Regions from separate parts of the Homo sapiens genome. Here regions 1 and 3 are each reported to be linked to region 2. The links are microRNA targets in miRTarBase. Many come from high-throughput screens and were not tested one by one. Region 2 holds a microRNA gene; each other region holds the end of a gene's coding sequence.

Evidence for each region. The annotated mature microRNA hsa-miR-4509 reads ACUAAAGGAUAUAGAAGGUUUU and lies in region 2 at 1,269-1,290, shown strand. An mRNA with a match to its seed (bases 2 to 7 or 8) in the 3' UTR can be bound and repressed. Matches are read on the target gene's strand: a 7mer-m8 pairs with bases 2 to 8, a 7mer-A1 pairs with bases 2 to 7 and ends in A, and an 8mer does both.
Region 1: the mRNA of POU2F1 is a reported target of hsa-miR-4509. Seed matches in the 3' UTR shown: 7mer-m8 at 121-127.
Region 3: the mRNA of CLIP1 is a reported target of hsa-miR-4509. Seed matches in the 3' UTR shown: 7mer-m8 at 380-386.

What each region holds. Positions count from the first base shown.
Region 1 is chr1:167,415,538-167,418,537 of GRCh38, reverse strand. It overlaps POU2F1 (POU class 2 homeobox 1), which reads right to left. Exons shown (of 16, transcript NM_002697.4): 16 at 1-3,000. The coding sequence ends at 2,728. Among named protein-coding and RNA genes, the nearest start is that of CD247, 100 kb to the left of the region's middle.
Region 2 is chr15:23,196,576-23,199,843 of GRCh38, forward strand. MIR4509-1 (microRNA 4509-1) reads left to right here and starts at 1,252; the gene lies at 1,252-1,345.
Region 3 is chr12:122,270,101-122,273,100 of GRCh38, reverse strand. CLIP1 (CAP-Gly domain containing linker protein 1) reads left to right here. Exons shown (of 26, transcript NM_001247997.2): 26 at 1-1,632. The coding sequence ends at 226. Among named protein-coding and RNA genes, the nearest start is that of VPS33A, 5.1 kb to the right of the region's middle.

The DNA.
Region 1 (3,000 bases), not on the chromosome of region 2:
CTGGGTACCAGCATTTCCCTCCCTGAATCCTTCCTTCTAAGTTTCACCACTCCCAAGGGAGGGACTCATTATTATGGGCAGCTACAGCATTACTGATAGCCCTAAAATCATTTCCACAGACTAAAGGTAGAGATGTCAAGTCAGGATAGAAGATTAAATTTAACTACAACAGAGAAAAAGTGAATGGAGAGGAGAGAAATTAGTAATTGACATTGTCATTCTATTTACACACCAACCTAATAAACTAGTTAAACATCAAGTTAATGTCTGCCCAGAGGATATCACAATTTACCAACATAAAAGATTAAAAACAAGCAGCAACTTTCATATAAAATTAATAAAGACAAATGAAAAAGAAATTGTCAGTAGCATCTATCTCCTCGATGTGTCTGAACTGCACGTTATCAACTAGTCCATTAGTACAGCAGCTTGCTAAAAATTGACTTTGGTTCAAGCTTAGTTAAAAAACAAAACAAAACATAAAAAAACACACCACACAAAAAGGGTGAATGGACATTTGTTAGTTTCCCTGCTTGCAGTTCACTGATTTTGGAAGGATTTTAGGGAAGGTGAAGGGTAAGAGGAGGAAATTTAGGGGTGGTAATTAAATATCTGTGAAATAAAACACGATAGAAATAAACTAAAAGAAATATTTTAAAGGGGACTAAAATGTTTCTGACCTTTTAACAGACTGTCTCCCACTTGAATCACACACAAAAGTACACATTGTGTCTGTATTTACTGCCTTACTGGACAATGGGAAAGAGACAAGTACACAGAATCCAAGCTCCCTTGTGGACACAAACAAAAGCAATCAGAATAAAAATCACCTGTAAGTTCTCTCTACATCCCCAGCTCGAAAGGGAGAAAAAGTGCAGTCTTGGGACCACCAGAGATTTAAGCAAGCACCCACAGCCACCAAATGGGAACCTTTAACTCCAATAAGAAGGGGAACTTAGATGAGCTGCACTGCAGTGATCCAGTCTTTTGGAAAATTTTTTGGTACAGATGGCATAACAACAGTACACTGACAAAAAAAGGAATTTAATCTCCAAGTTACCCTTATTCCTCTTCATCCACTTTCACAAACTCTTCCTTTTCAATGGGCTCATTTATATAGTCTACAAACACCCTGAAAATAATTACAGAGCTAATTACTTTCTACATTGAATAAAGAGATGTGTATTGCCATTTAGACCTACCTAGCAGGAGCATCATGAACAAACCAAGGAGACACTTAAGGTGTGTGCAAAGTTCCTGCTCAAAGTCCTTCTTCAAAGGTTCTACAGATCCCAGCCCGGCTAATAAGTGCCTCCTTTAGTCAGAGAACCAAGAAGAATCTCAGGGTTAGAGGAATTTATAAACCATCCAGTGGAAAGGAAGTCTGTGGCTCTCTAGAGGAAAAGGTGGTAACCTTATACCCTTCTCATCACACCTCTTTTGTATATATTATCAATGGAAAATAGTCTAGTAGAATTCCTTTAGAAAATAAAAGAAGGGAAAAGTTTCCCAATTTCAGTAAGTCAGTTTTTTTTCTTTGCCAAGTTAGTTAAAGTTTGGATGAAAAACTTCCACAAAATGGAACAAACAAACAAACACACCAACAGCAGGAGCATTTTTCAGGAGATAAGAAATCAGGAGAACCACCAAGTCAGGTGTCTGCAGTAGTCTTTGCTCTTGGGAACCAAATCCTGCCCTGCAACATGTACAGCTGTTCCCATTGAAAGTAGCAGAAAGCAGCACTGTTGCACCACAGGAACTGGGCCTCAGGGTCATTCAATGATTTGGGGGTGAGTGAGAGCTACAGTTCAGCAGGAATTCCTTCCTACACAAAAGTGCTCCAAAGGCACCACCTGATGTGGGGAGGGGAAGGGGCGTGTGTGGAATGGGAGTGTTTGCACACACTGCCTTCAGCTTCTGCACCAAGCCTCTTGCATAAGTGGCAAAAGAAAATAATTTTCTAGCACCTCTGTAAGAGTCATCAAGGATAAGGAAACCAGCAAGAACATTCCCCACAGTTAAGAACAGAAGTCTCCCCTTACCCCAAAACCCTCCCTCCCCACAGTGTGGGAGCTCACTGAAATAGGATCCAGGAGCAAGAGATAATAAACATGTCCAAACTATATATATAAAACAATAACAACAACAACAATAATAATACAGTAATACAGGCCTGCCTAAATTGTACCAGTTAAGAAAGGAACCCCCAACACAATTGATACGATTATAAACACCTTGTTATGACTTAATGGCCTGTACAACAGACCCATAAAAATGATTTTTTTTTTTTAAGAAAAAAAGAAATTTAGACAAACAAGAAATCCCCTTCCTATATTGGAATTGGTAACCCACCTTAACTTGTCATCATGACTGCTGGAAATGATAAGTAGTCCTTTCACTTATTTTTGTTTGTTTTTGATTTTTTTGTTTCTTTTTTTTTTTTTTTTTTTAATTTTTGGTTAGAAAGTTCTCCAATCCATGAAGCAATCCTGAAAAGACAGTGTTTTATTACAAAATTAGGCAAATGTTCCGTCTCCATCCTTTCTTTCTTTTTCTGGTATGTGTGTATGGGTGTGTGTGGTTTTTTTTTTTTTTTCTCCCTTCTCTCCTTTGCCCTCACAACACGGCGAGAGGAAGCCAATCACATTTTTCAGTTTATTAACCTGGCTGGCAGTCCAATCACACTGCAGAGTGAAAAAGGCTTCTGGCAGCCCAGCTCTGCCCAGCTCACTGTGCCTTGGAGGCGGTGGTGGTGGTGGACGCAGCCCCGCTGGCAGAGGCCACTGTGAAGAGAGAGTTCTGGATGGACTCAGCAGAGGTGGAGGTGGCGTGAAGGCTGGCTACAGGTGCAGAGTTCCCTGCAGATGCTGCGGCGGCAGAGACCAAGCTAACAGGGTTGCTGGTGAGCAGAGAGAGGTTCTGAGGGTTCAGGAACAGAGGGGCAGTCACGATGTTGGGGGCTCCTCCCGCATTGGCAAATACCAGGTTCCCAGTTGCATC
Region 2 (3,268 bases):
ACCACAGCTTGGGCAAAAGCCCTGAGTCGGAATCATGTGGACTTATTCTTAGAACAGCATCGAGGAAGCCATTATAGCTGGAGTAGAATGAGAAGGGGGAAGAGTATTAGTAGATGGTGGCAGAGAAATAAACATGAGAAGACGGATGATGGAACGAGCACCTTGTACGTCATTTTAAGGACTTTGGCTGTTCCTCAAACTGACATGGGACCATTGAAAGATTTTTTTATTTTTTATTTTTTAAATTTAACTTTTAAGTTCAGTGGTACACGTGCAGGTTTGTTATGTAGGTAAACTTGTGTCATGGGGGTTTGTTGTACGGATTATTCTGTTACCCACATGGTAAACCTGCTACCCACTAGTTGTCTTTCCTGATCCTCTCCCTCCTCCCAGCTTTCACCCTCCTTTTCAAAATAAGACATACATGCAGCCAACAAACATAGAAAAAAAGCTCAGCATCACTGATCATTAAAGAAATGCACATCAGAAGTACAATGAGATACTATCTCACACCATTCAGAATGGTTATTATTAAAAAGCCAAAAAATAACATGCTGGCAATATTGTGGAGAAAAGGCAACATTTCTACACTGTTGGTGGGAGTGTAAATTAGTTCAGCCATTGTGGAAGACAGTGTGGTGATTCCTCAAAGACCTAAAAGAACTACCATTCGACCCGGCAATCCTATTACTGGGTATACACCCAAAGGAATATAAATTGTTCTGTCATAAAGACACATGCATGCATATGTTTATTGCAGCGCTATTCACAGTAGCAAAGGCATGGAATCAACATAAATGCCCATCAATGGTAGACTGGATAAAGAAAATGTGGTATATATACACCATGGCATATTATGCCACCATAAAAGATGAGATCACGCCCTTTGTAGGAACATGGATGGAGCTGGAAGCCATTATCCTTAGCCAACTAATGCAGGAACAGAAAACCAAATGTTCCCACTTAGAAGCGAGAGTCAAAGGGGAGAATACATGAACACGTAGAGGGGAACAACATTGAAAGATATAAGCAAAGAAGTGATATCATCTGAATTGCATTTCTGAGATTTCTCTGGCACTTGTGTAAAAAATAGCTGAAAGGAATCAACGGCAGAAGCTGGGAGACCAGTTAGGGAGCTTTTGCAATAACCATAAGAGGAAATATGTGTGGCTTAGACTAGGAATCGTCAGGTTGGGAGTGCTCATTCAAATGTGGTCAGAATCCGGACATTTTGAGTGAGCCTACAGAAAGCTTTAATACTATCTCAAACTAAAGGATATAGAAGGTTTTCCCTTTCTCTTGCCCTGAAACCTTCTGTATCCTTTATTTTGAGATAGTATTAGAATTCTTACTATCTTACTGACAATTCTCACTATCTTGTTTTATAACTTGGAACATGATTATAATTATAGTATTGTTAAATATTTTATTTTTATTTTATAATTATACTTTAAAAATATTATTTTGGTAAATAATCATAAAATATGAAAAATAAATCTTTCCATTAACTGAATCAATTGTCCCCTTGCAGGATTTTGGCTTCACAACTTCCTAATCCTTGAAATATTAATTTTGATTATTTTTCTAATATGTACCCATATGTCTTTGAGTAAATTTTTATTGGAAGGACAAATCAGTGCTGGATATACAGATGCCATTGCTTCGTACTCAGGTAAAGACAACCTGATATTTATGATCCTCTTGATCATATTTTTATTCTCTTAAAATCTTTATGTCTTCTAATAATGTTAACAGAGAAGAAAAAAAGTCTTATCTAAGCCTGACTTTTTATTTTTAAGGAAGTTTTTTTATTTATTTGTAAAATTCAGGAGTTTGGCTAGTTGTTATTTAAATATGGAGAACTCTTCCTTGTTTCTTCCCCCTCCCTGCCTAGAAGCTGGTTGGTGCTTTTATTATTCGTACTTCAGTGATAGCTTTGATTATTGTTTCAGATCTCCTTGCCCTTGTGTCTTTCCCCAGTACACAAACTATTCTCGAGGTGGAACCTGTGGTCTCTGGCATACCCATCCGCCTTCTTCTCTGTCATTAGTTCATCTCTTCCTTTGCCCTCCAGAGCTCTGATTCAATTGCTGCTTGAACTTTTCAGTGTGTCAGTTTCTTTCTCCACGGATTTCCCTGTGGATGGAAAATCTGCCCTTGCACTTTAGTTTTCATAGAAGCCTCATCTCAGCTATCTCCCATTTTGTGATATGAGCCTCTTTTGTTATTGTAGCCTTCATCTCCTATTTCCTAAATTCCATGTGTTTCTACATACTGTTCATAGACAAATAGTTTAAAGCAATGGTCTATAGTTTCTTGTGGTTTGAAAGTCATATATTTTTAAATACGTTTTCTCCCCCTGAGAATTCAGCATACAGTTTCATTTTTCTTGTACGCAGGATGATTTTTAGGATTTTTTTTCTGTTATATTTTTTCCATTCTGGTTACCTAGAAGGTAGTGATTATTACCCCAAACCAGGGTTTGATACTGTGTTAGTCCACTTTCATACTGCTATGAAGAAATACCTGAGACTGGGTAATTTATAAAGAAAAAAAGGTTTAATGGACTCAGTTCCACGTGGCTGGGGAAGCCTCACAATCATGGCAGAAGGCAAAGGAGGAGCAAAGACATGTCTTACATGGTGGCAGGCAAGAGAGAGAGCATGTGCAGGGGAACTCCCCTTTATAAAACCATCAGATCTTGTGAGACTTATTCGGTTTCACAAGAACAACACAGGGAGAAACCCATCCCCATGATTCAGTTACCTCCCACTGGGTCCCTTTCATGACATATGGGGATTATGGGAGCTACAATTCAAGATGAGATTTGGGTAGGGACATAGCCAAACCATATCATTCTTCCCCTGGCGCCTCCTGAATCTCATGTTCTCACATTTCAAAATCAATCATGCCTTCCCAACAGTCCCCCAAAGTTTTAACTCGTTTCAACATTAACTGAAAAGTCCACAGTCCAAGGTCTCATCTGAGACAAGTCCCTTCCACCTATGAGCCTGTAAAACTAAAAGCAAGTTAGTTACTTCCTACATACAATGGGGGTACAGGCATTGGGTACCCCCAGTGTATCTACACCTGTTCCAGATGGGAGACATTGGTCAAAACAAAGGGGCTACAGGCTCCATGCAAGTCTGAAATCCAATAGGGCAGTCATTAAACGTTAAAGTTCCAAAATGATCTCCTTTGACTCCGTGTCTCACATGCAGGTCACACTGACGCAAGTGGTGGTCTCCCATGGCCTTGGGCAGCTCTG
Region 3 (3,000 bases), not on the chromosome of region 2:
TGATGATCAGGAGAAACAGTCCAAGAAGAAACCTCGCCTCTTCTGTGACATTTGTGACTGCTTTGATCTCCACGACACAGAGGATTGTCCTACCCAGGCACAGATGTCAGAGGACCCTCCCCATTCCACACACCATGGCAGTCGGGGTGAGGAACGCCCATACTGTGAAATCTGTGAGATGTTTGGACACTGGGCCACCAACTGCAATGACGACGAAACCTTCTGATGAAGCCTCCAGTGGAGAACTGGGCTTGCTCAGACGCACTCGCATTGACACAACGTAACACCAGCATTGTGTGTGCAGACTTCAGGAGAACTCATGTTATTTTTTAACCCCGTCAACAAATCTAGGAAAATATTTTGATCTTCAACAAATTGCCCTTTAGTCTCCCCGTATGAGTTAGAATAATAAATATTTAGTAGGTGAGTTTTCACCTCGAATTTTGTTTTCTTGATTTTTACGTTTGAAGACATTGCACCAGATGCCATTACATTTATTGGCCCCCCGACCTTGTAGAAAAACCCCTACCCTCACAATACCTTATTTAAGTAACTTTAAATTATGCCGTTACTTTTCATATTTGCACTAAGATATTTCCAGGCTGCATTTGTATATTTAGATTTTTTGGTTAAGCTTTGACACTGGAATGAGTTGAAAAAATGTGCCATTTTGCATTTTCATCTACTCATTTAAAGTATTTTATTCTTATTCAAAGAAATATCTGAGCTCTTTGCACTACCTGTTATCAGTAGTGCCTTTACTTCAGGCTTGATAATACTTAGGTGTGATTATAAAATCATGAAGCAGGTAAAGGGAGGGGCAAGCCCCCAAACTGCTGTGGGGACATTTTATAATCTATATGCTGCACCCACTTAATCTACTGTGGTGTTTTGTTTATTAGTTTTGCATAATTTCAGCTTCTATATATTGTATGTATATATTTTTTAAAAATCTATATTTTGGGAAAAAAACATACACAATGTGTCTTTCTTTTTGGACATTTACCTTTTTGAAAAAGAAAACACTTAAAATGATCATTAGGACATAACAGACTAGGCCAGACATAGCATCTTGTGGCTTTGCAACCATTTTCATTTGTTTGTTTTCCTTTTATTTCTTCACCAGATTTAAATAACTGGAGGAATTTTCTCCAATTTTTTTTTCCTTCTCTGGCAGGTATCCCCAGCAGTCAATTAACAATAAGCCAGTATAAAACACCTAAATAACCAATCTACAATCTCCCTTCACAAGTTTTTTTACTGTTTTTAGATGAATGTACGATGAGAAATTCAACGTTAATAATTCTGGATTTTCTTATCACAAAAAAGAAAATGAAGGACCTCAAAGCACCTGAACAGTTTATCGACCAGTTTGAATCTATTTATCTTCATTTGAATGTCTTCTAGAATATGTAAAAAGTCATAAAATGTATCTTCCATGCTACATGTACAATAAGAACTTCTATAATTGTATATATGCCTTTGATGTATTTTCCCCTCAAGATTATCAACTGTGTGTTCGACAGTGAATATTCAATCTGGTACCAGTTGAAATTTTTGGTTATAAATGTAATACGAATTGTTTCACAAACAGAAAACATGTAAAGCAGTATTAAAATTTGGCCAAACAAGTGTTCTGTATCTACTTTAATAAATGGTTATTCTTTTTTGTTTTGTGGGTTTTGTTTTGTTTGAGACAGGGTCTCACTCTGTTGCCCAGGCTGGAATACAGTGGCACAATCATGGATTGCTGCAGCCTCCAACTCCTGAGCTCAAGCAATCCTCTCACCTCAGCCTCCAAAGCAGCTAGGACTACAGGCAAGTGCCACCACACCTGGCCAATTTTTTTTTTTTTTTTTTTTTTTTTGAGACGGAGTCTCACTCTGTCGCCCAGGCTGGGTGCAGTGGTGTGATCTCGGCTCACTGCAAGCTCCACCTCCTGGGTTCACGCCATTCTCCTGCCTCAGCCTCCCGAGTAGCTGAGACTATAGGCATCCGCCACCATGCCCAGCTAGTTTTTTGTATTTTTAGTAGAGACAGGGTTTCACCGTGTTAGCCAGGATGGCCTCGATCTCCTGACCTCGTGATCCGCCTGCCTCGGCCACCCAAAGTGCTGGGATTACAACACCTGGCTAATTTTTAAATTTTTTGTACAGAGTGAGTCTCCCTATGTTGCCCGGGCTGGTTTTGAACTCCTGGGTTCAAGTGATCCTCCCACTTCAGCCTCCTAAAGTGTTGGGAGTGCTCACCCAGCCAATAAATGGTTATTCTTTTTTGCTAATGGTAGTAAATTGATATTCTCAGGTTTGTCATAATGGTTTTACTTCAAATGAGCAAACCCTATACATTCATATAGCAATTTCTACTGCAGTCTTGTTACTAAAGTTTTTAAGAAATTGGTAGGCCTGGTGCGGTGGCTCACGCCTTTAATCCCAGCACTTTGGGAGGCCGAGGCGGGTGGATCACGAGGTCAGGAGATCGAGACCATCCTGGCTAACACGGTGAAACCCTGTCTCTACTAAAAATACAAAAAATTACCCGGGCACGGTGGCGGGCACCTGTAGTCCCAGCTACTCGGGAGGCTGAGGCAGGAGAATGGCGTGCACCCAGGAGGCGGAGCTTGCATTGAGCCAAGATCGTGCCACTGCAGTCCAGCCTGGGCGAAAGAGTGAGACTCCATCTCGAAAAAAAAAAAAAGCCAAGCGTGGTGCACACCTGTAGTCCCAGCTACTGGGGAGGTTGAGGCAGGAGAATTGCTTGAGCCCAGGAGTTAAGAGGCTACAGTGAGCTATGATTGTGCCACTGCACTCCTAGGCAACAGAGTGAGACACTGTCTCTCATTTTTTTTTTGGTATGTCTTTCTGTCCTTCTTAAAGTGTTTCATGACCCATTTAGCATAACGTACTTGTAGTTGTTATCCATTACTGTATCACCCCACATTACCTGACAAAAATAATTACCTGATAAAAATCAATGTGGCACCATGTGGTGCCAACTATC